Linked DNA regions of Homo sapiens. The protein of the gene in region 1 interacts with the protein of each later gene in a biochemical or structural test. Each region holds a gene or a part of one and is shown on either strand. Other genes may lie near its edges.

Region 1 (3,500 bases):
TGTAGTGCAAGGGCTGGGCATGGTGGCTCACGCCTGGAATCCCAGCACTCTGGGAGGCCGAGGCAGGCAGATCACTTGAGGTCAGGAGTTCGAGACCAGCCTGGCCAATGTGGTGAAACTCCATCTCTACTAAAAAAAAAAAATACAAAAACTAGCTGGACGTGGTGGTGGGTGCCTGTAATCCCAGCTACTTGAGAGGCTGAGGCATGAGAATTGCTTAAACCCGGTAGGTGGACTGCACTCCAGCCTTGGTGACAGAGCAAGACTGTCTCAAAAAAAATGTAGTGCAAGGAGAGAGAGCGAGGTTGGGGTGAGGTTTAGGAGAGGGTTTGTCTTCTAGGCAGAGAGAATTACTTAGATGCGTCTCTCCGATGTCTAATGATCTGCAGGGTCTCTAAACTCACTTGGCATAGGTTTATTTGCACTGGAGTTGCACCTCCTTCCAGGTCAGTCTTACAAGTCCATATGCGAGACAACGTTGTGTCAGGACAAACATCACCCTTGGAAATCCCTTCCTCCAATAACTATTGGCCGGTTGTCCTTCTTGCGCGGGTACAGACTGCGCTTATTCAGTTGACTGTCTGGCTGAGTCAAGTCATTGGCTTACGTGAGTGTGAGTGGCCAAGTTGCAAAACTGGCTCTTACCTTTGAATCTTCCCCCATTCATACTCAGCCAGGCACATGGGGAGGAGACCCTTAAGGGAATAGCAGCGTCACCTCTGCCTTCTCACGGTCCCTCCAGGAAGTGTGGGGGTCCCAGGCTTTGGTCTGAAACTACACTGAAATAGCTCATTTTTGCCTTTTGTTTTAACTTTTCCAGGTGAAAATGAGTTACTTAAATTTTCTTACATTCGGACATCTTTTGACAAGATCTTGCTGAGATGGGAGCCGTACTGGCCCCCCGACTTCCGAGACCTCTTGGGGTTCATGCTGTTCTACAAAGAGGCGTAAGTAGAAGAGTTAGAGAGACGCTGAGGAGGCGAGGGCTGGCTGGCTCTGTGCTTGCTACGTTTGTGCTCCAATCTGCCCCTCTTGGGTTCCTGTCTATCTCCCTCCTCCTCCTGGAATAAATATCTTAGGTTCCTTTTTACAATCTCACCAGTCGATGGCATGCAAAGTCAATAGTGTCTGCTTTTATCAAATGCCTAAAATGGAAGCAGACAGCTTTCCCATAGAAGCCCGGACTGGCCAGTTTCCTGGGGCAATATTCTATTTTGCCTTGCCTGTGTATGTCTCATCAGACATCCTTAGTAGTCAGGAGCTCAGTCTACTAAGTGGATGTTATCAAATGTATTGCTTATCTATTTTTCTTTTTTATCCCCAATTTTTTTTTTTTTTTTGAGACAGAGTCTTGCTCTGTTGCCCAGGGTACAGTGCAGTGGCAGATCTTGGCTCACTGCAACCTCTGCCTCCCGGGTTCAAGCAGTTCTCCTGCCTCAGTCTCTTGAGTAGCTGAGATTATGGGCATACACCATCACACGTAGCTAATTTGTGTATTTTTGATAGAGACGGGTTTTGCCATGTTGGCCAGGCTGGTCTCAAACTCCTGACCTCAGGTGATCTGCCCACCTTGGCCTCCCAAAGTGCTGGGATTACAGGCATGAGCCACCGCACCTGACCAGTAGTAATATTAATAATAGTTCTAGCCCTCAAGATTTACCTTGTGCCTTGCTGAGCACTGACACACAGTCTAATCTTATCAGTAACTTGTGAGGGAGCTCCTGCTATTACTATTATTACAGATTGAGTATCCCTAATCTGAAAATCTGAAATTTATAATGCTCCAAAATCCAAAGCTTTTTGTGGGCCGACTTGATACTCAAAGGAGATGCTTATTGGAGCATTTCAGATTTCAGATTTTTAGATTAGAGATGCTGAACCAGTACAATGCAAATTAACTAGTAAAATGCAAATATTTCAAAACCCCAAAATATCCAAAATCCAAAACACTTCTGGTCCCAAGCATTTATTTATTTATTTATTTATTTATGTTTTTGAAACAGAGTCTCCCTTTGTCGCCCAGGCTGGAGTGCAGTGGTGCGATCTCAGCTGATGCTACCTCTGCCTCCCGGGTTCAAGCAATTCTCCTGCCTCAACCTCCTGAATAGCTGGGATTACAAGCATCTGCCACCATGCCCAGATAATTTTTGTATTTTTAGTAGAGACGGGGTTTCACCATGTTGGCCAGGCTGGTCTCGAACTCCTGACTTCTGGTGATCCGCCATTCTCGGCCTCCCAAAGTGCTGGGATTACAGGCGTGAGCCACTGCACTTGGCCAAGTCTCAAGTGTTTTGAATAAGGGATGCCCAAGCTGTGTTTTTTCATTGAGATGTCAGGGTTGACAGTTCCTTTCTCTTTGGCTGTTCCCGAGTTATTTTTTCTTGTGGCATTAGATTGTTGGGTGAGTAACATGTGACCCTATGGGATGTAACTTCCCAGGCCTCATCTGCACGGCACTCAGTGTGACGGTCTTGTAAGGGTAACTGCCTTCTGCTGTTTTGTCTTGAAAGCCCTTATCAGAATGTGACGGAGTTCGACGGGCAGGATGCGTGTGGTTCCAACAGTTGGACGGTGGTAGACATTGACCCACCCCTGAGGTCCAACGACCCCAAATCACAGAACCACCCAGGGTGGCTGATGCGGGGTCTCAAGCCCTGGACCCAGTATGCCATCTTTGTGAAGACCCTGGTCACCTTTTCGGATGAACGCCGGACCTATGGGGCCAAGAGTGACATCATTTATGTCCAGACAGATGCCACCAGTGAGTGTGTCTTGGGAATGTGAATTCGTATGTGAATCAGACCTCTTGCTTTTAATAGGCTGATGCAGTGAGGTTGTATAAAATGCTCCTTGATATGGTTATTGGCTTTTTTTTTTTTTTTAGACAGGGTCTTACTTTGTCACCCAGGCTAGAGTGCAATGCAGTGGGGTGATCATGGCTCACTGCAGCCTCAAACTCCTGGGCTCAAGCAATCCTTCTGCCTCAGCCTCCTAAGTAGAAGGAACTACCAGAGTATACCACCATGTGTGGCTTTTTTTTTTTTTTTTCTTTGAGATGAAGTCTCACTCTGTCACCCGGACTGGAGTGCAATGGCATGATCTCGGCTCACTGCAACCTCCGCCTCCCAGGTTCAAGTAATTCTCCCACCTCAGCCTCCTGAGTAGCTGGGACTACAGGCATGCACCACTATACCCAGCTAATTTTTGTATTTCTTGTAGAGACAGAACGTTGCTGTGTTACCCAGGCTGGTCTTGAACCCCTGGCCTCAAGTGATCCTCCTGCCTCGGCCTCCCAAAGTCCTGGGATTAGAAGTGTGAGCCACCTTGCCCAGTCAGTTATTGGCTTTTAAAGGAGCTGGGTATTGAGGCTTATAGTTTCAGACGAGGCAGTAGCAACAAGCCACTTGATGGGAATATTTATATTTTTCATCCTATTATGAAAAATTGTCAAATATTCACAACACAGAACAAAACCCCATAGTTAGCCGCCTCCCAGCTTC
Region 2 (3,500 bases), on another chromosome or scaffold:
GTATTAATTCATTCAACAGGAAGTTAATGAGCCAGGCAGGATAAAGCAGTAAGATAGGAAAATATTGCTATTTTCATGGCTGAGAGAGAGCAGACAAACACATGACTAAATAGGGCAATTTCAGGTAGTAATAAATTCTAGGAGGGAAAAAATCCCACAGAAATGTGAGGATGGGAGAATGCAGTTAGTTTTGATAGGTGGTTTAGAGAAGGTGATCGTGTGAGCTGACACCTGAATGACAATTAGTAGTCTGAATTTTGTTTTGCTTAATTATCAAAATAACTCCTCTTGGGTTCGGCTTTTATATGCATCCAGTAATTAAAATGTAAGTATATTCAATGTACTGATATCTCTCAGCATCATAGGTAGGAAAACTAAGGCATTCAGCAATTAAGTGACTCCTCCCTTGATCATGTAGCAGTGATAGTACTGGATTTAGATTTTGAGGTTGCTTCTCTGCCCTTTTCTGCCTTTGTGAAACCAACAAAGCTGCCTGTATTTTCCAACTCTTCCTTCAGCATGTGGTACCTCCTTTACATCTGTTTTTGTTGCTCTGAAATCCATACGCGACGATGAGCTGAGAGGGGCAGAAAATTGAGCTTGTTCTGAGACTGGAGGCTTTTGGTTTATCTCTTGCAGGTCAAGTACATTTTGTCCTGGGCTCTCCCTGGTGGCCACGTTTGTTTATCTCCTGCGGGAGTAAATAAACTTGCCTTGCTGAAAAATAACAGTTCTGTGTCTTTGCAGTGGAAACTGGGATGTCTTTATTAACGTTAGGTCCTGATGTAAGGCCAAGTTTTTGGTTAGAGTTGCTCAAGTGCAGAGGCCACTGCTAAGATGACTTACCCCTCGTGTCCATGGTCAATGTGGAGACTGTTATGAGTGGCACATGATGCTGGAAAAGCAGAGCCAACTCATGTTTGTAATTGTCCTAGCAGGCCGTGGTGTACTTTGTTAGGCAGCCACAGAACAATAGAGAAACTCAGCTTATTCCCCTTCCCTCTGGGAAACACAGACAGTACTTGCCATCCAACGCCAATGTTTTTAAGGAAGAAAGAGGCAAAAAGTGATGTTGGCAAGGTCTCTGGGAGTTGTGGACCCCAACCAAGGATTGGAGACCCTGAAATGGATTCAGATGCCCTAAAATGCAGCCCAGTTCATTACTATGAATTTTGGAGGACTTTGTGCCTTGAGCAAATGTGTATATGTGACGCTCTTTGACAACACTGAAATAGGAAAAATACTATCCATGTTCGCGAGGAGCACTGAATTTAGAGAGGGAGACAGACTTTTATGCCAGCATCAAATGAATTTGATAAAGCTAGTACCAAAATGAAATTTGAAATTTTTTTTTTTTGAAATAGAGTCTTACTCAGTCACCCAGGCTGGAGTGCAGTGATACAATATTGGCTCACTGCAACCTCCACCTCTTGGGTTCAAACAATTCTTGTGCCTCAGTCTCCTGAGTAGCTGGGATTACAGGTGCGTGCCACCATGTCTGGCTAATTTTTATATTTTTAGTAGGGATGGGGTTTCACCATGTTGGCCAGGCCGGTCTTGAACTCCTGGCCTCAAGTGATCTGCCCACCTTGGCCTTCCAAAGTGCTGGGATTATAGGCATGAGCTACCACACAAGCCTGAAATTTGAAATGTATTGGTATAGAATATACTGTTTAGAATGTATGTGTATATATGTATATTTGTATACTCATATAAACACAAATACACATTGTATGTGTTTCTGTAATATGTATATCTGTCTACACATACATGTATATACACACATACAATGTCTTTTTTTTTTTTTTTTTTTTTTGAGACAGGGTCTTACCCTGTTGCCCAGGCTGGAGACTGCAGTGGCATAATCTTGGCTCACTGCAGCCTCGACCTCCTGGGCTCAAGTGATCCTCCCATCTCAGCCTCCTGAGTAGCTGGGACTGACTACAGGCACGTGGCATCAAACTTGTCCAATTTTTCTATTTTTTTGTAGAGTTAGGGTCTTGCTCTGTTGCCCAGGCTGGTCTCAAATTCCTGGGCTCAAGCTGTCTGCCTGCCTCGGCCTTCCAAAGTACTAGGATTACAGATGTGAACCACTGTACCTGGCCTTTACAATGTCTATTTTAAAGATAATGGTTCAAGTTTTTATCATCCCACTGGCCTACTCTAATGAAACATCTATCCATTCATTGAAGAATTATTTATGGTGGGATAACTCTGTGCCAGGTACCGTGCTAGGCATTGAGTATTCCAGGTTTTAGGAAACAGCACATGCAAAAGTGCTGAAGTGGGAGAAGATCTCGGAGTGATTGAAGGCTAGGAGAGAGCAAGTGTGGGAGCTGTGAGGCTGGGAAGGTGGGAGGTAGGTGGGAGCAGACCACATAGGGATTCTTAATGTCTTTAGTGTCATGTGGACCATGGAGAGGAGTGTAGATTGTATTTTTAGAGCAATGCAAAATCATAGAAGGATGTGATCGGGGGAGTGGCATGAGCTGATCTATTTAAAAATATTTCTCTGGCTGCTGTGAAGGAAGGATTGTAGGAGGCAGGAGTAGATTCAGGGAGATGAGACAAGTGATGAGAGAGGCTTTGAACTTGGGTAAAAGTAGTTTGTGGAAAGTCTTTTTTGGAGGTAGTTTTTGTTTATTGCCTTGTCATCAAAGCAGAGATGCTGACCAATGAAACTCCATGAGAAAATAGTGATTTATAAAGACATATCTATGCACTGCCATTAAAAAGCTGCTTGGAAAAAAAGGATAAAAAGCTGCTTTAACAACTTTTTTTTTTGAGATGGGGTCTTACTCTGTCACCCAGGCTCACGACCTCAGCTCACTGCAACCTCTGCCTCCCAGGCTCAAGCATTCTCCCACCTCAGCCTCCCGAGTGGCTGGGACTGCAGGCACACGCCACCATGTCAGGCTAATTGTGTGTGTGTGTGTGTGTGTGTATGTGTGTGTGTGTGTGTGTGTGTGTGTGCTGGGACTGCAGGCACACACCACCATGTCAGGCTAATTGTGTGTGTGTGTGTGTGTGTGTGTGTGTGTGTGTGTGTGTGTGTGTGTGTGTATGTAGAGATGGGGTTTTGCCATGTTGCCCAGGCTGGTCTCAAAATGTTGCCCAGGCTGGTCTCAAACTCCTGAGCTCAGGTGATCCACCCGCCTCGGCCTCCAAAGTGCTGGAGATTACAGACGTGAGCCACTGTGCCCACCTAACAACTTTAAAAAAATTTTGACATTTAGTAGGATATTTATTGCATTATTGTTGAGATGGCAAAATATTGGAGACAACTGAAATGTTCATCAGTGGGGGGGGCTAGTTAAATGAAATACAGTGTAGCATGCATTAGAACACTTTTCAAGAATTTAACTTTTTTTGTAGCCTTTTACTTATAATGCTTGTCCCTATTGATGCCTTTTTTTTCAGCATGACTTACTCTTTTACTATAGGATATTAAAATTTAATTAGATTAGAAATGAGGAATATTCTTGTAATCTGTAGAAAGT
Region 3 (3,500 bases), on another chromosome or scaffold:
TGGGGGGCAAAATCACTCCTGTTGAGAACTGTTGGTCTGTGTTAACATGGAGGAGTATTTTGTTGACCCTTTTAGGATTTATGTATTGTAGTATTGGGTGGTTGAACTTAATTTACAGGTATCCAGAGGAGCTTGTATGGTAGAAGTTTCAGGGAAGGAAGGCAATTTCTTCAGAGCCATAGGAGTATAAAAATTGCATGTGGCCCAGCATGGTGGGTCACACCTGTAATCCCAGCACTTTGGGAGGCCGAGGCGAGTGGATCACAAGATCAGGAGTTTGAGACCAGCCTGGCCAACATGGTGAAACCCCGTCTCTACTAAAAATACAAAAAATAGCCGGGCATGGTGGCAGGCGCCTGTAATCACAGCTACTCGGGAGGTAGAGGGAGGAGAATTGCTTGAACCCAGGAGGCGGAGGTTGCAGTGAGCCGAGATAGTGCCACTGCTGCACTCCTGCCTGGGGGACAGAGCAAGACTCTGTCTCAGAAAAGACAAAAAAAAAAAAACCCTGTATGTTTAAGAGTTGATATAAAAAGGTATTTGAGAGAGAGAGGAGAAAGTAGCAGGAGTCATCTTTTTACTTTTTTTAATGTTGTGTCTCTGGCATAAATGTAGAGAAATAGAAGTAAACCTGGGATCAGGAGGGCCACACACTTGAATAGCCTGTACAGAATAGTGGGGTAGAAAGCAATAAATTTTTCTGAACTGGAGGTATGGTATTTGAACTTTATTAAATTTTGATTTTCTGGAGATGGGGAAGGGACAGGGAGGACTCAACTTTCTGACTTACATGTTTTCTTCTGTTATACCCGGTGTACCTAGCAAGGATGGGCATAATAGAAGAATGGTTTCTTTTGCTGTAAGGTATTTCTATAAAGTTGTATGGAAATTGATGTTGGTTCTTTAGTTTGTGTAGCTCCACGTGTAGAATAGATTTTGAGGTTAGGTGTGGGAGGATTAATCAATAATTATTGCCGCTGCTGCCGCCATTATTAGTAACAAATTTTGAGGTGTGGTTTTAACTAACCCATATAATCCACTTTTCTAGATTACTTGGATACTTTTGCACTTGGGTTTGTAAATAATACTAATTGGTGGATTTGTCACTTTGACATGTTGCTTTTTGCCTCTGCTTTCTGATAATCTGGGATATGGTTACTCGAAAATTCAATTTACTTTTTACTGTAGTTTTAAAGTTGTTTCTGTATATTTTTGCCATGACAAATCTACTTCTCTTTCTCCTTCATAATTTGTTATATGCATAATGAAAATGAAATGGGGAAAAAGTACAGTTGGATTTAGAAATAAAAGCTGTTTTTTTAGGCTTAAATATTTGAAGCCTGAAATTTCTTATTACAACTTTTGATAAGAGGAAGGGAAGATGGAAAAATAGATTTAGGTGCTGGTTAACAGAACGGCAGAGATCTTGCTGATCTTGGGATCAGTTTTCCTTGTATGAGAATAACTGGTTGATGGGATGAACTTAAGTAAAAGTTAAGTTTTTGAGGAACTGGCAGTTTTTGAATTTAAGCTGCTGCAGATCTGATTTCTAATTAATCAAGTAAAGGATTTAATAACCTTTTATTTGCATTAAATTGGTTCATGAACTTGTCCAATGGGTCTTGTTAATATAATCTGTTCCTCATAATTCCCTTGTATGGGAATTAAGGTAAACTACTTTTTAAAGGATGATTTGCTCTTGTGTATCTTTTATAATTAACTGTTCTAGTTGTATAAGTAATTTAAAAACATGATGCACTTTTTCCCCTTTCAGTATAATAATCATGAAATTCGTTCTGGAAAACATATTGGTGTCTGCATCTCAGTTGCCAACAATAGGCTTTTTGTGGGCTCTATTCCTAAGAGTAAAACCAAGGAACAGATTCTTGAAGAATTTAGCAAAGTAACAGGTAAGTTGGATTTATTTGGAATGAGGTGCAGCTTTTAATAATGAAGATTAATAGCATATTTCTGTGCGTCATGCATTGTTCTAAATACATTTATTGACTCATCGAATCCTCACTACAACTTTTGAAGTGTAGGTAACCCCATTTTTCAGATAAGAAGAACAGGCATTCAGGGATTTGGGAAATAACTTGCCAAACGTTGTACAAGTTAGTAGGGAATACAGCTAGGGTTTGAATTCATTCTGCAAAATCATTGTTCTTCCTATGTTTTGGAAGATCGTATTTCTTTGTGTGTTCTTTCTCTAGGTGTTAGTTGATGTTCTTAGTAGAATTGTTTGAATAATGATTTGATGTTCTTGAAATTACAGGAGTAGTAAGTATTGCCGTAGCAGAGTGTTTTTTTTTTTTTTTTTTTTTGGAGACAGTCTTGCTTTGTTGCCCAGGCTGGAGTGTGCTGGTGTGATCTTGGCTCCCTGCAGCCTCTGCCTCCCAGATTCAAGGGATTCTCTTGCCTCAGCCTCCTGAGTAGCTGGGATTACAGGCGCGCACCACCACACCTGGCTAATTTTTGCGTCTTTTGTAGAGGTGGGGTTTCACCATATTGGCCAGGCTGGTCTTGTACTCCTGACCTCAAGTGATCTGCTTGCCTCGGCCTCCCAGAGTGTTGCGATTACAGGTATGAGCCACCGTGCCTGGCCCATAAACAGAGTTTATATATTGTCAACATGGTAAAAAAATTTTTTGAACTGTAACAACTTTTAAGTGACAGGTTGCTTTTAGAAAATATTTTGGTCTGCCAACAGTGTCTAACAAATTATCAGCCTGTTATCAACTTTCAGGACATTGGAAATTTTTATGCAGTACTTATAACTTCTATTTTATTTGAAATAAAGCCATTGATATCTAAGGCCAGAAAAGTGCCATTAAAAATAATTTTAGTGTTTGCATAATAAGAAAAATAGCCATATTTGATCTATACTGCCATTTTCTTAGAACAATTATATGAAAATTTTTATCTGCCTCTCTGATCTAATTAGTGAAAACAAAAGTAGTCCTTACCTCTAAAAAGAGCACATGTTCTTTTCTGGAGATTTCTGTGTTGAAAAACTTGGAAACAGATTAGGAAAATAATCCGGACCTAGTTTTTGATAGTCTTTTATAAAGATGTCTAGTGAAGGAAAGAGATGATTTTTCATTTTGATATTTAAGTAGTATCTTAGATAAATCCTTTGATCCACTTGTATTTGCTAGTTATTTCATCTAATTTTCCTGGAATGGTTGCTTACTTGCAGAGGGTCTTACAGACGTCATTTTATACCACCAACCGGATGACAAGAAAAAAAACAGAGGCTTTTGCTTTCTTGAATATGAAGATCACAAAACAGCTGCCCAGGCAAGGCGTAGGTTAATGAGTGGTAAAGTCAAGGTCTGGGGGAATGTTGGAACTGTTGAATGGGCTGATCCTATAGAAGATCCTGATCCTGAGGTTATGGCAAAGGTAATGATAGTCAAGTTAAAAATATTTTTTGAGGGATTAATGGGAGAAGGGCCGGGGTTGGGGTGGGGGGAACATAAAATGAACAGTATACATTT
Region 4 (3,500 bases), on another chromosome or scaffold:
TTTAAAGGATTATTTTTCAAAAGTTACTGAAAGCAATAGGCACCTTTCAAGACCACCATGATGTTGCTGGAAATTATTTTGTGTAATGCCTTTTATTTTTTTAAGAAAAAAAAAACAGAACAAATTGCTTAATCTCTCTGTGGCTCAGTTTTGTCATCTGTAAAATCAGATGATAGTGAGTACCAACTAATAGTTGCAGTGATGGTTAAATTAATTATTTCATGTATACCCCTTGAAACAGTGCTTGGCACATACAGTGAGTTATTATTTTTAAAAATCGTTATTGATATTATTATTACTGTTGCTGCTATCCAGAAACATGTTGCCACTCTAATCATCCTCTTTCCTGATGTCACTTGGCTACTCAAAAATAGCAGCAGCTGGTGATTTTTTTACTTAACAAGTGCTAAGTCTTCTGCCTGAGTGTGAAAACACACTTAGACACTGTCCTACCTCTCATATGCCTCCCCAGCCAGAGCTGTTGTCCTGATCAGGTTTGTCACTAAACTCAAAAACATTCCTTCTTCCGTTTGTAATATTTTCTTTTCTCCCTTACATGTATTCAGTTCCACTTACCTTTCAATGAACAGCTGAATTCCACTTCCGGCATGAAACTCCCTCATTCTCACAGCTCCCGTTAATTACTGTAGTGTCCAAATTACTATGATAGAATCAACCCAATGACTGATGATCAAATGGATTCTGCATCTAACATTCAAAACAGTAGCTAATACCGATGTTCAAAGTTTGGAGGTTACATATCAGAAAAGGTTTTCTAAAAAAGAATCATTCTGAAACATGCAACTCAAGACTTACAGTATACACTGGGGGCTGTGTTTTCTCAGAAACAAAAGAGATCGTCTTCACAAATGAATCTGAACTTATTAAATATTTTATGTACCAAATTAATGATATAAAACCATAATTTTTCAATATTTAATTTTACCAATGATAATTGAGTTTGTTCAATACACTGGCTGATAATTGTAGGTACTTTTGAGTATCAAGGATGTACTTATTTTTCAATCACTCAATAGTTTGGAGTTCACTTGGAACAATGTGATGTAGAGACCAAATTAATTAGGTACGTGGTAGTACTGACTTTTAACGACTTACTAATTTTTTTTCACATTTTTCCTCAGAAAAAGATTGCCTCAATCTGGATAAAAACCTGATCAAATATGATTTGCAAAATTTAAAACCTTATACGAAATATGTTTTATCATTACATGCCTACATCATTGCAAAAGTGCAACGTAATGGAAGTGCTGCAATGTGTCATTTCACAACTAAAAGTGCTCGTAAGTTATATGTTTTAATGCTTCTTTCCATAAATGGTAAAAAGCAAGGTATGAACTTTTTAGCCTACAATATTTCTATCTTTATTCTAGCAAGCACATTTACCTGGCACATTTGTTAACATCTAGGGCTTATAAACACGTAAAATCTAAAAGTTTAAAAACCGTTATCCTGGATTCTCTCTCTTCTTCAGATATAGTCATAGAATTTTAAGGACAAAGCATAAAAGCATCTTAATTGGCATCAGTTTGTGCAATTTCATGCAGTTAAGTACTTAACCAACTTAGATTAAAACATTCACTGTTTGCTGTTGTCTTTACTATCTGGAAATATTAATTGTAATCAGAAACCTAACAATGTCTCATAAAGCATTAGCCTACTAACCTCTGTTCATCTGATAAAACATTTCATAAAATGTAATATTTTATTAGCATTTTCTTCTCTTCGTTACCCTCAACTACTTACTATTCTATTTTATGTCACATTATCCATTTAAGGTTTCCTTTCAATGGCATTTGGCTCTTGCCACTAGTATAATCTCTCCATAGTTTCCAGGCCCAAAGTTAGATCTGCTTCTGGGGCACATGTTAACCTCCATCGAGGACAGGGAAGAAGAAATGCCGTGTTTTAAGGCAGCATCTATAGCTCCAGAGACCCTAACGGGCACTAGACTTGTGAAGAAATATTGTGCTATTTGGGGCTGAATATAAGACACTTTTAAGGTCATTTAGGTTTTGGTTTGAAAAGTTCTGGTCCTGGAGCTCTATGCTTTTGTTGTTTTCCTGAGTTTCTGTATCACAGAAAAAGAAGACAATTTGTTTCTGTTCCTGAAGAACCCATCTAGGTGTTTACCAGGATAACATTAGCACTCCGGGAAAGAAGGGTCTAGATTGTGTAATAGGACTTGGAGGTTTCCCAATCAACAACATTTTTCCTCTCCTCTCCCCAAACTTCCCCCTCTTCCCCACTCCCTTCCCTTTTTCTCTATTCTCTAATTCTACACAGTCTCCTTCAGGGATTGCAATAACTCTCATGGCTTCATGTACAACCTATATGCTAATACTTACTGAATAAATGAGTGATTTATTCTTCAGGGTTTTGATATTGTTTTTTAATTTATGTACTATCATAACTTCCTTATTTATAACCCCCAAGCTAACACTTAAAATACTTTATACTATATCCAAGTATTGTCAAGTAATTTACATATGCATCTATTAAATTATTAATAACAAATCTTTCTTCATTTTGATAGCTCCAAGCCAGGTCTGGAACATGACTGTCTCCATGACATCAGATAATAGTATGCATGTCAAGTGTAGGCCTCCCAGGGACCGTAATGGCCCCCATGAACGTTACCATTTGGAAGTTGAAGCTGGAAATACTCTGGTTAGAAATGAGTCGCATAAGAATTGCGATTTCCGTGTAAAAGATCTTCAATATTCAACAGACTACACTTTTAAGGTAAAAGTATGCTCTCTACATTACTATAGTACCAACTACATTATAATGATTGATTCATAGTACTTAAATAACTTTAAGACCACTGCTCACATGAGATTGAGAAGCTCTGATGTGTAATGGAATCACACTTAAAGAGTCTCAAATATTTGACTCTAAAATTTTTATTCCTATAGCTCAAGTCAGTGGTTTAAAGCAAATGTTTCATTGGAATATTTTAGAACTTCAATATGACTTAATTATAGCTAAATTATTGCTTCTGTGTTAAGAAGCACAACACTTTATGCACAACAGATTATTACTTTACCAAATCTACCTTTTCTTTACTTTGGCTTTTTATCTTTATTAATGTGGAATTTTTCAATTGCAAAATTTCACAGGTACCTTGAGGTTAGGAAATATTTGAAATAAACACTAGACAATACTAGTGAGCATACAGAATTTAAAACACTCATTATCTCACTGTCTACTGATCGTATTTTGTACATGTAACTTCATAATATACACATTTATATGCACTTAACACGTATTATCAACATTCTGAGTACACAGTTTTCAAAATACAGTTTTAAAACTGTATTTTTAATATATCACTATATCACACACACCTTTCTATGTTAAATATTTAACTACTATGTAGTTTTTAATGCCTGTATAATATTCTATGTATGGCTTTATCACATTCTATTAACTATAACTATGTTGGTCTCTAATATAAACAACATTCCGATAACACACTT
Region 5 (3,500 bases), on another chromosome or scaffold:
AAGCACTGCCACGAGATGATGGTACATCTAGGAAAACTAGACACAATAGTACTGATCTGCCCATGTGAGCCTGGAAAGCATTGTGTTGTTTGCACCTTTGTGAAGTTTTTAAAAATGAAGATGCAAGTGCTTCATTTTCATTTCTAAACACTAACTCCTTTTATAGACTGATAAAATTTTTTTCTGAATATTTCATGTGCATCTTTAACTAAAGGGAATTAATGTAGAGCAGGTACTCCTTAAAGAACACTAATTTCATTATATACTACTCGTTGTACAGCAGCATTCCCGTTTTCACAGTGCCTATTTAAAATGAGAGTTGAAGTAAATGACATGCTGGTTGATTTTTATCAATATTCTGGACTTAACGCATACCTTTCATGTCTAAGTCATGGTTGGCTTTTAAAACTTTTTATAAAGCCTCTTGACAATGTACATTGCTAACAGGTAACTATAGGCTTTGAAAGTAATGCTCGTAGATTCAGTGTTCACAGTATGTGGCCTCCAGCATGTAACATGAGGAATCCTTTATTTCATTAATTAATGGCTTTTTGACTTGAGCCAAAACATATGTAAAGGAAACAGAAGTACCGCACCTCCTCTTACACCAGTCAGCTCCTTTGCCTTCAGTGTTACTAGAAAGCGGCCTGTGTCCATGAGTGTGCTTTGCTGTTGGTGCACTGAAAGGCAGGAAGGAGACAAGATTTTCTATTTACTCATCTCATGATGTCATTTGAAGGGCATGTCCAGATATCTTAAAATTATAATAGGCTCAAGAATCAGTCTCAGGTCACTTTACCCAAAAACATTTGAAAATCTGAACCACAATCTCCTGAAAGTTTTTCTCCTATAGATTGTTGACAACACATTGTTTTCTGGAGGCATTTGTGCCATTAGGTTTCCATTTATCTTCAGTTTTTTTCTTTGGTGTTTGGGATGTCTTATTTTGTTGCCTTATGTCCTTTTCAATTTAAAATGTTTGAGTTTGTATATAGTTTTGAAATTGGATTATGTGTTCATTGTTGTTTAGTTTGCATTTTTGTCAAATTATGGTTTTGAAGGTTCATTTGGAACTTACTGTTAGTCTGTAACAGGGTTGCCCTTGTCCAGTATTTATTTATAAGCTGTTTACTTTTCAAGTTGATAAAAACATTCTCCAATTCTAAATTTGCTTGTGTCCATAGGTGATCTCTTTAGCAAACTGAGAAAAAAAGGAAGCTACTTTTAACATGCAAAGTTCCCTCAAGGTGTACCGTGTTGTCTCTGTGGGCACTCTTCCCCAGCACTTTAGCAGTAATTCCCCCAGCTACACGCTGCAGTTGTACTCTGCCCACTCTAGTGTTCCTCAGCTCTGCTGTCCTTTTACTTGTAGCTGGATCTTTGATTATCCTTCGATTTCCATGAAATATTAATATTGTTGCCAGCATAGCAGGTACAGTGGAAGTCTTGTAGCAGTGAGATTGTATCATAATTTAGGATTTAAAATGAATTAAAGTTTATATAAACTGAAGAGTCTCCATATGTCAAACTCTTGGAAAATCAAAGATGTTCCAATTTCCTAAACACTAGAGAATACGAGAGAAGGTAGAGTGGAAAAGGTTAGGTAACCTTGCAAAATATTTTACTATTTTCTCTAAATATGAGGAAGTTTGAGATTATGATCTGGATCTACCAGATATAACTAAGGTTAATTTAGCATGAAAAAGTTTTAGTCATATTGGCATCCAACCTATTCAGTAACCGAATCATAGGACAATGATGGATTAGGAGAACAATAGAGTGGGATCATTATAAAGAAAATAAATTATTAAAGGTGTCTTTATCGTTTTAGTGCCATTTTTAGTGTCTTTACTATAAATCAATATCAGTGTATTTTATCATTCTATGTGCATAGCAGAATTTTCTTTTCTCCCTTTTGTTCCCCTGTGAACTTGGTGCTTATTAAAGTGCTCACTGTTCTCTTAAAAGAGAGCAGTGGTATAGGTGTGCAGTTTCCATGATGCAGGTTCCATTTTTAATATATTGTTCCACTTATCCTTTCTTCTGAGTAAATTGCTAATTGTGCCAAATTTATGTAATAGTTTTTGTAATGTGGAATAAGAATTATGATGGAACCATTGCACATTTTTTTCTGAAACAGCCAGTCAAGGCAGAACATTAATCTCCAAATGCAAGGGCTGATCTATTTATTCATTTTGGAGGTTGGGTACTTTATTCTTTCTTTCCGTCATCCTTTTCATTGTTTCCCCCGGATTCTAATTAGTTTTTATTTTTTTTAGATAACTCCAATATAATCATTACAGTTTATGCTTTAAATACTATGTGCTTTAAAAAGGAAAATGGGACCAATTTGTCTGCTAAGAATTTGATTTTAGGTACTATAAGAGTATTAGGAAAATATATACAACTGGTGTTAATTTCTAGATATTTTCTAGAAATCACTTGTGTTCCTATTTAATAAAAGGTAATTTAGAATACTACTTGTCCTTTGCAGTAGTTTAGTAATGGGCATTAAGCTGTGTCCTCGAAGGATGTACCTATTACTAGGTGCATTTTAGAATGAAATATTGATATTTTATTAGCATATAATTGTGGCCATATATCTCAGATTTTCTGAGGCAGATCTAATTTTAGATAATTCTGTTGGTAGACCATGTGATCCTTCTTTTTGGTTTTGGAAATATAATCATTGTTAATGTTTTCCCTCCAAATAGAATACTGTTTTATCCATACAAATCATAACAGCATCTATCCCATGCTAGGGTTGGAAACTGATATTGGTATTACTTGTGTTTTTTCTTAGTGTGTTTTATTTCCCAGTTTCATCTTCTTCTAAAAATGAAAATATGGTGCCTTCCCTCCCTCCAGGAAGACTGGCAAATATTTCCTTTTATTTACTGCTGCTGTGGAGTGATGAGATATGCACTTTACTCTTTAAGATTCAGCAAAAAGCTTTTCACTTCTCAGTATATCCAGAATACATCATATCTGGGACTTAGGAAAATTTGCCAAGCAATCTTTGTTTTTATAGATACTAATGTTGACCCTCTCCAGCGTTCAATGTTATAAATAGAACAAGTCAAGCTAGTGTTTATCTCCTCCCCCTCCCCAAAACTGTGGCACAGCATATAAAAATGTACCTCAATAATGTTCTATTAAAAATGGGACAGGGGCCTTATGTTTTCATAATTTCCCAACAATGTGCCGCCATATTTTTGCCTCAAGGTAAAGGTTTTAACAGATGAAAAAGTACTTCCCAATTCCCCCGTGCTATTCCTAACCTATAATGCCCAAATGTTTTGTGCAATGTGTAGTGTGTGTGTATAAATACATATATTCTTGAAATAGACATACCATCAGAGACATCATTCACAAGTAACTGATGTATTGGCATCTCATTCATATTTCTGATGTGTGAGGTATATGGTACTAATTACCTTTTCCTTGATGTTTGCCAAATTTGAATAAAGGCATTGGTACGAAATTACAGAATGTAAAGA
Region 6 (3,424 bases), on another chromosome or scaffold:
CACCTGCCCAGGGAGGTAGCAGGAGAAAAGATGATCTTAGTTTAAGTCCTGGCTCTACTTCTATTTGCTGTGTGACCCTGGGTATTCCCCTGCCCCTCTCTGGTCCTGAAATCTCCCCACCTGGCTTGTGGGGGGAGGTAATAGTGGGCGGGATCTACCTGTACCAAGTCCTGCTCACTCATGCTGCTTAGGATCCGAGGCACCTGCAGTACGTGGCAGATGTGAACGAGTCCAACGTGTACGTGGTGACGCAGGGCCGCAAGCTCTACGGGATGCCCACTGACTTCGGTTTCTGTGTCAAGGTGAAGACCTGGCCAGGCCTGGCCCCTGGCCTGGGGAAGCAGGAACTGCTCAGGCCCCTGGATCCTGCCCGGGGCTTCTGAGCCCCAATTCAGACACCTAGACTCCTCTCCCTGCACCCTGGCCTGCTGGAAACTCCTGGATTCAGCTCTGCTATGTGGAGCAGGGGCAGACATGTGGTCCTAAAGGCAGATATGGGACCAGTCAATTTCCTCTCTCTGCAGCCCAACAAGCTTCGAAATGGCCACAAGGGGCTTCGGATCTTCTGCAGTGAAGATGAGCAGAGCCGCACCTGCTGGCTGGCTGCCTTCCGCCTCTTCAAGGTGAGACCCTGGGAGTGGCATGGGGGGCTGGCCTGGCCAGAGGGATCCCCAGCTCTGCCCTCAGGAAGTCTCAGGAATGAGGAGGGCATCACAGCCTTGCTCTCTGATAACCCCCAGTCCAAGCCTGAAGTTATAGGAAGTGCCCATCGAAGGCAGAAACACAGCCCTGGTCTGGGCAAGTCCTGGTCTGAGGGGGGCGTCACAGCCACGCCCCCAGGACCTCTCGACCTCAAGCTCTCTTTCTCTCCCCACCCCCAGTACGGGGTGCAGCTGTACAAGAATTACCAGCAGGCACAGTCTCGCCATCTGCATCCATCTTGTTTGGGCTCCCCACCCTTGGTGAGTGTGCCCAAGGGGATGGGAGGGTGGGTATGCAGGCCCTGTCTTACGGGTACCTGGGCCCTGTTCTGACCTCTCTCCTCTCCTTCCATCTCCAGAGAAGTGCCTCAGATAATACCCTGGTGGCCATGGACTTCTCTGGCCATGCTGGGCGTGTCATTGAGAACCCCCGGGAGGCTCTGAGTGTGGCCCTGGAGGAGGCCCAGGCCTGGAGGGTGAGGCCTGCTGTGTGTGTGTGTGTTTGTGCTGGGGACCCACTCTCTGGGTGGGATCCCTGAAATAGGAGGGAGGAAGAGAGGGCGGGGGGAGGCCCCTGGCTGGGAAGAAGTGCTCTACCTTCCTGAGGTGCTGGGTAATGCCCCCAAGCACGCCCCGACTCTCCCGTATCTCCCACTGCTCCACAGAAGAAGACAAACCACCGCCTCAGCCTGCCCATGCCAGCCTCCGGCACGAGCCTCAGTGCAGGTGGGTGACGGCCCCGAGTCCTGGGGCGGGGGCTGCCTCAACTTCTCTTTGTATTCCCAGTGGGGAGTAGATGGTATAGGGGTCCCCTCCCCAAAGTGACCGCCCATGTCCTTCCCCACCACAGCCATCCACCGCACCCAACTCTGGTTCCACGGGCGCATTTCCCGTGAGGAGAGCCAGCGGCTTATTGGACAGCAGGGCTTGGTAGACGGGTAAGGGGCAGGGCCGGGCAACAGACCCAGGGATAAGAGAGACTGGGGTCCAGGTGGCAGCCATGGTCCTTGGGTAGTAATGCTGCCCCATCTCCTGTCTTCTGGCAGCCTGTTCCTGGTCCGGGAGAGTCAGCGGAACCCCCAGGGCTTTGTCCTCTCTTTGTGCCACCTGCAGAAAGTGAAGCATTATCTCATCCTGCCGGTGAGCTTCCCTGCGTCCCCGGAGTCCTGCAATGAGACACAGGACTCCCAGCAACCTGTCCTCCTCACCAGGCCCCTCCAGAGGCTCCCTGGCCCCCAGTGCGTCTCCCTTTTCCCTGCACAAGAAGTGGGAGGCTGAGTGCGGTGGCTCACACCTGTAATCCCAGCACTTAGGACGGCCAAGGTGGGAGAATGGCTTGAGCCCAGGAGTTCGAGACCAGCCTGGGCAACACAGGGAGACCCCATCTCTACAAATAATTTAAAAATGAGCCAGGCATGGTGGTGCACACCTGTAGTCCAGCTACTCAGGAGGCTGAGGTGGGAGCATTGCTTGAGCCCAGAGGGTCAAGGCTGCAGTGAGCCATGGTGGCACCACCACACTCCAGCCTGGATGACACAGTGAGAAAACTGTCTCAAAAAAAAAAAAAGAAAGAAAAAGAAAAAGAAAAAAGAAAAGAATAAAAGGAAATGGTGGGGCCCTGGCCCAGGAGGGAGCTTCCCAAGCCTCGGGCCCCTCCCTGAACTTCCACCCCCTTTACTGTACCCCAGAGCGAGGAGGAGGGCCGCCTGTACTTCAGCATGGATGATGGCCAGACCCGCTTCACTGACCTGCTGCAGCTCGTGGAGTTCCACCAGCTGAACCGCGGCATCCTGCCGTGCTTGCTGCGCCATTGCTGCACGCGGGTGGCCCTCTGACCAGGCCGTGGACTGGCTCATGCCTCAGCCCGCCTTCAGGCTGCCCGCCGCCCCTCCACCCATCCAGTGGACTCTGGGGCGCGGCCACAGGGGACGGGATGAGGAGCGGGAGGGTTCCGCCACTCCAGTTTTCTCCTCTGCTTCTTTGCCTCCCTCAGATAGAAAACAGCCCCCACTCCAGTCCACTCCTGACCCCTCTCCTCAAGGGAAGGCCTTGGGTGGCCCCCTCTCCTTCTCCTAGCTCTGGAGGTGCTGCTCTAGGGCAGGGAATTATGGGAGAAGTGGGGGCAGCCCAGGCGGTTTCACGCCCCACACTTTGTACAGACCGAGAGGCCAGTTGATCTGCTCTGTTTTATACTAGTGACAATAAAGATTATTTTTTGATACACCTATGAGTTCTGTCTGGCAAGGCCTGGCTGGCTGAATCAAGAAGGGAACCAGAGCTGGACGTGGTGGCTCATGCCTGTAATCCCAGCACTTTGGGAGGCCAAGGTAGGAGAATTGCTTGAGTCCAGGAGTTTGAGACCAGCCTGGGCAACATGGCAAGACCCTGTCCCTACAAAAAATAAAAAAATGAGCCGGGCATGGTGGTGTGCACCTGTAGTCCCAGCTTCTCAGGAGGCTGAGGTGGGAGGATCCCTTGTTCCTTGAGCCTGGGATGTCAAGGTTGCAGTGAACTGAGATTGTGCCGCTGCACTCAGCCTGAGTGACAGAGTGAGACCCTGTCTGGAAAAAAAAAGAGGGGAGACCTGGAGAGGTGGGCACCTGTGGAGGCCTTGGTGGAAGTGTCAAATGGATCGAGGCCATGTCTCAGCCTGCCTGGATGTTCCTCAAGGGCAGGAGTGGTTATCTGAGAGTCTCCAGTGCCCACCATGCAGCTTGACACAT
Region 7 (3,500 bases), on another chromosome or scaffold:
GGAGACTGCACACAGAGTCCCTACTGGGGTACTGCCTAGTGGAGCTGTGAGAAGAGGGTCACCATCCTCCAGACCCCAGAATGGTAGATCCACTGACAGCTTGCACTGTGCACCTGGAAAAGCTGCAGACACTCAATGCCAGCCTGTGAATGCAGCCAGGAGGGGGGATATATGCTGCAAAGCCATAGGAGTGGAACTGCCTAAGACCATGGGAACCCACCTCTTGCATCAGCATGACCTGGATGTGAGACACGGAGTCAAAGGATATCATTTTGGAGCTTTGAGATTTGACTGTCCCAGTGGATTTTGGAGTTGCATGGGGCCTGTAGCCTCTTTGTTTTGGTCAATGTTTCCCATTTGGAACAGCTGTGTCAATGCCTGTACCCCGAGTGTATCTAGGAAGTAACTAACTTGCTTTTGATTTTACAGACTCATAGGCAGAAGGGACTTGCCTTGTCTCAGATGAAACTTTTGACTGTGCACTTTCGAGTTAATTAGTTAAGACTTTTCGGGACTGTTGGGAAGGCATGATTGGTTTTGAAATGTGAGGACATGAGATTTGGGAGGGGCAAGGGGCAGAATAATATGGTTTGGTTGTGTTCTCACCCAAATCTCATCTTGAATTCCCAAGTGTTGTGCGAGGGACCCTGTGGGAAGTAACTGAATCCTGGGGGCAGGTCTCTCCCATGCCGTTCTTGTGATAGTGAATAAGTCTCATGAGATCTGATGGCTATTATAAGAGGGAGTTTTCCTACACAAGCTCTCTTTGCTTGCTGCCATCTGTATAAGACATGACTTGCTCCTCCTTGCCTTCTGTCATGATTGTGAGGCTTCCCCAGCCACGTGGAACTGTAAGTCCAATTAAACTTCTTTCTTTTGTAAATTGCTCAGTCTTGGCTATTTCTTTATCAGCAGTGTGAAAATGAACTAACACACTATGTGTATTTACAAAATAATCAAATTTATAGATAATTTCTTAAAGACACATTTGGTACATAAAGGTTTGCCTGTTCCCATAGGAAAGACTGACAGTTGGTTAAGGGAAGATTACCACGGATGCAGTTAAGGAAACAGTTGCTGCTATTTCATAGTAGGTGGTCCACTCTGATGTCATTGTAGCAGGGTTGAAATAAAACATTTCAACCACGTATTTTCTGAACACGCCTAAATAAGGTCTGGTCCAGCTCAGAACCACGGCCGTAGGACCCAAAGGATAGAGCATTAAATCCTTTATTCCTGTGGGAACTAGAAAGAAGAGGGCAGGGGGTAGAAAAAGAAAGTTAAGAAGGAATGTCTTAGCAATGGCCTCAAACTTCTACTTAATGACCCGAGTTTTCACTCTCTGATACAATACCTACCTCCCTCCCTCCCTTCCTTCCTTCCTTCCTTCCTTCCTCCCTTTCTTGCTTCCTCCCCTTCCTTCCTCCCTCCCCCTGCCCTCCCCCTTCCTTCTTCCCTCCCTCCCTCCTTTCATCTTTTCTTTTCTTTTTCTTTCTTTCTTTCTTTTCTTTCTTTCCTTTCTCTCTCTTTTTCTTTTTCTCTCTCTTTCTCACTCTCTTCTTTCTCACTCTCTTTCTCACTTTTTCTCCTTTCTCTCTTTCTTTCTTTCTCTCTCTCTCTCTTTCGTTCGTTCTTTCTTTCTTCTTTTCTTTCTTTTCTTTTTTTTTTTTTGAGACAGGGTCTTGCTATGTTACCAAGGCTAGATTAAAACTTCTGGGCTTGGCTGGGTGTGGTGGCTCATGCCTGTAATCCCAGCACTTTGGGAAGCCAAGGTGGGCAGATCACGAGGTCAGATCGAGACCATCCTGGCTAACACGGTGAAACCCCGTCTCTACTAAAAATACAAAAAATTAGCCAGGCATGGTGGCATGTACCTGTAGTCCCAGCTGCTCAGGAGGCTGAGGCAGGAGAATTGCTTGAACCTGGGAGGCAGAAGTTGCAGGGAACTGAGATTGCACCACTGCATTCCAACCTGGGTGACAGAGCGAGACTCTGTCTCCAAAAAAAAAAAAAAACAAAACAAAAAAAAAACCAGACAAACAAAACAAAAAAAACAAACAACTTCTGGGCTCAAGCAGTCCTCCCACCTCAGCCTCCCAAGTAGCTGGAACTGTAGGTGTGTGCCACGGCACACAGCTTTACTCTTGTTGTATAATCATTGAAAACTAAAGTAAGAATGTTTGCCTCTGATTTTTTCCCCAAGTAATAAATATTAAGAATGTTTTCCAAGTATACAATTCTTGTTATTTATTACTCTGAAGGTAGCATATTGGATGAACTAATATGGACCTTCCAAATACGATGATAATGATTTGAGCTCGCACATTGCACCCCTCCGTCAATACCCTAATATATAGGTCAGTCATTCTTCTTGTGGCTAGCAACTTACCAATAGCAAATGTCACAGGATCTGAAGGTGGTCCAATCAAAGGGCCTTTCCTTAGGTATATTACAACCTGGTACTGGGCACCAGGAACCAGATTTTCAATAATAGGTTTGCTTGAGTTCACCTTTAAACCAAACACCCAATAAGATTTATTTAGAGCTGGGATTTCAGAATGTTACACAGAGGCTGGTATAATATTCAGAGACTCTTTTTGGAATCACAGATGACTTTGAAATCCAGAAGGCTTTACTGAAGCTGTCAGATTCCAAAATTAGGATGATTTATAGTTTATGTGAACATTGAAGGGAACCTAGAAGATTCAAATTTTGTCTGTTCTAAGCCCTGTGAACTGCTTTATACCCATCAGTGTCAATTATAACTATGCACACTAGAGACACATCAGCCTCTAACCATAATCAAATCAGCAATACCATGAGGATAGTTTGACATTCTAAATTGTGGTGTCAGCTGATTACATACAAAGGTCAGTACGGAAATGTCTTTAGTCTCTTGTCACTTAGAAGCATATAATATCTAATTATAGAAATGAAAATGACCACCGGGAACAGTGGCTCACGCGTGTAATCCCAGCACTTTGGGAGGCCAAGGCAGGCAGATCATTTGAAGTCAGGAGTTCAAGACCAGCCTGACGAACATAGTGAAACCCTGTCTCTACTAAAATACAAAGAAAATTAGCCAGGCATGGTGGCAGGTGCCTGTAATCTCAGCTACTCAGGAGGCTGAGGTAGGAGAATTGCTTGAACCCAGGAGGCAGAGGTGCAGTGAGCCGAGTTTGTGCCACTGCACTCCAGCCTGGGCAACAGAGTGAGACAAGCTCTCAAAAAAACAAAAATAAAAAATAAATAAAATAAATAAATAAATAAATGGAAATGACCTTAGAGATTACCTAGTCCAAAGTGCTCATTTAATAAATAAAGTAAAGCCAGAGAATGGCCAAGGTCATATATTTAGATGCAGTGTTGGGACTGGAAGCCTAGTGTTGGGACCTTTAATCTACACTATGGGCAAGTCACTGTGCTAAGCATCGAGATATCCTGGTAAGCACCCTGCCAGGCTGTTGTAGCCCCCTAAAATAATATTGTAGAGAACATTT

What was found.
Region 2: the proteins of INSR (region 1) and PTPN11 form a complex in vitro, tested with the Homo sapiens proteins (2 studies listed by BioGRID).
Region 3: of the proteins of INSR (region 1) and SYNCRIP, one has a biochemical effect on the other in vitro, tested with the Homo sapiens proteins (one study listed by BioGRID).
Region 4: of the proteins of INSR (region 1) and PTPRC, one has a biochemical effect on the other in vitro, tested with the Homo sapiens proteins (one large-scale study listed by IntAct).
Region 5: of the proteins of INSR (region 1) and FRS2, one has a biochemical effect on the other in vitro, tested with the Homo sapiens proteins (one study listed by BioGRID).
Region 6: the proteins of INSR (region 1) and GRB7 form a complex in vitro, tested with the Homo sapiens proteins (one study listed by BioGRID).
Region 7: of the proteins of INSR (region 1) and PTPRO, one has a biochemical effect on the other in vitro, tested with the Homo sapiens proteins (one large-scale study listed by IntAct).

Annotation. Positions count from the first base shown.
Region 1 is NC_000019.10:7,165,415-7,168,914, reverse strand, and holds part of INSR (insulin receptor isoform Long preproprotein), read left to right. Parts: intron 1-820; coding exon 821-947; intron 948-2,510; coding exon 2,511-2,761; intron 2,762-3,500. UniProt on the Homo sapiens protein: Receptor tyrosine kinase which mediates the pleiotropic actions of insulin.
Region 2 is NC_000012.12:112,421,947-112,425,446, forward strand, and holds part of PTPN11 (tyrosine-protein phosphatase non-receptor type 11), read left to right. Parts: intron 1-3,500. UniProt on the Homo sapiens protein: Acts downstream of various receptor and cytoplasmic protein tyrosine kinases to participate in the signal transduction from the cell surface to the nucleus. Positively regulates MAPK signal transduction pathway. Dephosphorylates GAB1, ARHGAP35 and EGFR.
Region 3 is NC_000006.12:85,622,387-85,625,886, reverse strand, and holds part of SYNCRIP (heterogeneous nuclear ribonucleoprotein Q), read left to right. Parts: intron 1-1,774; coding exon 1,775-1,910; intron 1,911-3,199; coding exon 3,200-3,405; intron 3,406-3,500. UniProt on the Homo sapiens protein: Heterogenous nuclear ribonucleoprotein (hnRNP) implicated in mRNA processing mechanisms. Component of the CRD-mediated complex that promotes MYC mRNA stability.
Region 4 is NC_000001.11:198,715,540-198,719,039, forward strand, and holds part of PTPRC (receptor-type tyrosine-protein phosphatase C isoform 1 precursor), read left to right. Parts: intron 1-1,142; coding exon 1,143-1,301; intron 1,302-2,554; coding exon 2,555-2,763; intron 2,764-3,500. UniProt on the Homo sapiens protein: Protein tyrosine-protein phosphatase required for T-cell activation through the antigen receptor. Acts as a positive regulator of T-cell coactivation upon binding to DPP4.
Region 5 is NC_000012.12:69,574,888-69,578,387, forward strand, and holds part of FRS2 (fibroblast growth factor receptor substrate 2), read left to right. Parts: coding exon 1-68; 3' UTR 69-3,500. UniProt on the Homo sapiens protein: Adapter protein that links activated FGR and NGF receptors to downstream signaling pathways.
Region 6 is NC_000017.11:39,744,362-39,747,785, forward strand, and holds the end of GRB7 (growth factor receptor-bound protein 7), read left to right. Parts: intron 1-191; coding exon 192-302; intron 303-524; coding exon 525-623; intron 624-740; coding exon of another isoform or gene 741-881; coding exon 882-962; intron 963-1,060; coding exon 1,061-1,177; intron 1,178-1,366; coding exon 1,367-1,427; intron 1,428-1,551; coding exon 1,552-1,639; intron 1,640-1,747; coding exon 1,748-1,841; intron 1,842-2,389; coding exon 2,390-2,536; 3' UTR 2,537-2,924; downstream 2,925-3,424. UniProt on the Homo sapiens protein: Adapter protein that interacts with the cytoplasmic domain of numerous receptor kinases and modulates down-stream signaling. Promotes activation of down-stream protein kinases, including STAT3, AKT1, MAPK1 and/or MAPK3. Promotes activation of HRAS.
Region 7 is NC_000012.12:15,514,508-15,518,007, reverse strand, and holds part of PTPRO (receptor-type tyrosine-protein phosphatase O isoform a precursor), read right to left. Parts: intron 2,511-3,500; coding exon 2,390-2,510; intron 1,246-2,389; coding exon 1,052-1,245; intron 1-1,051.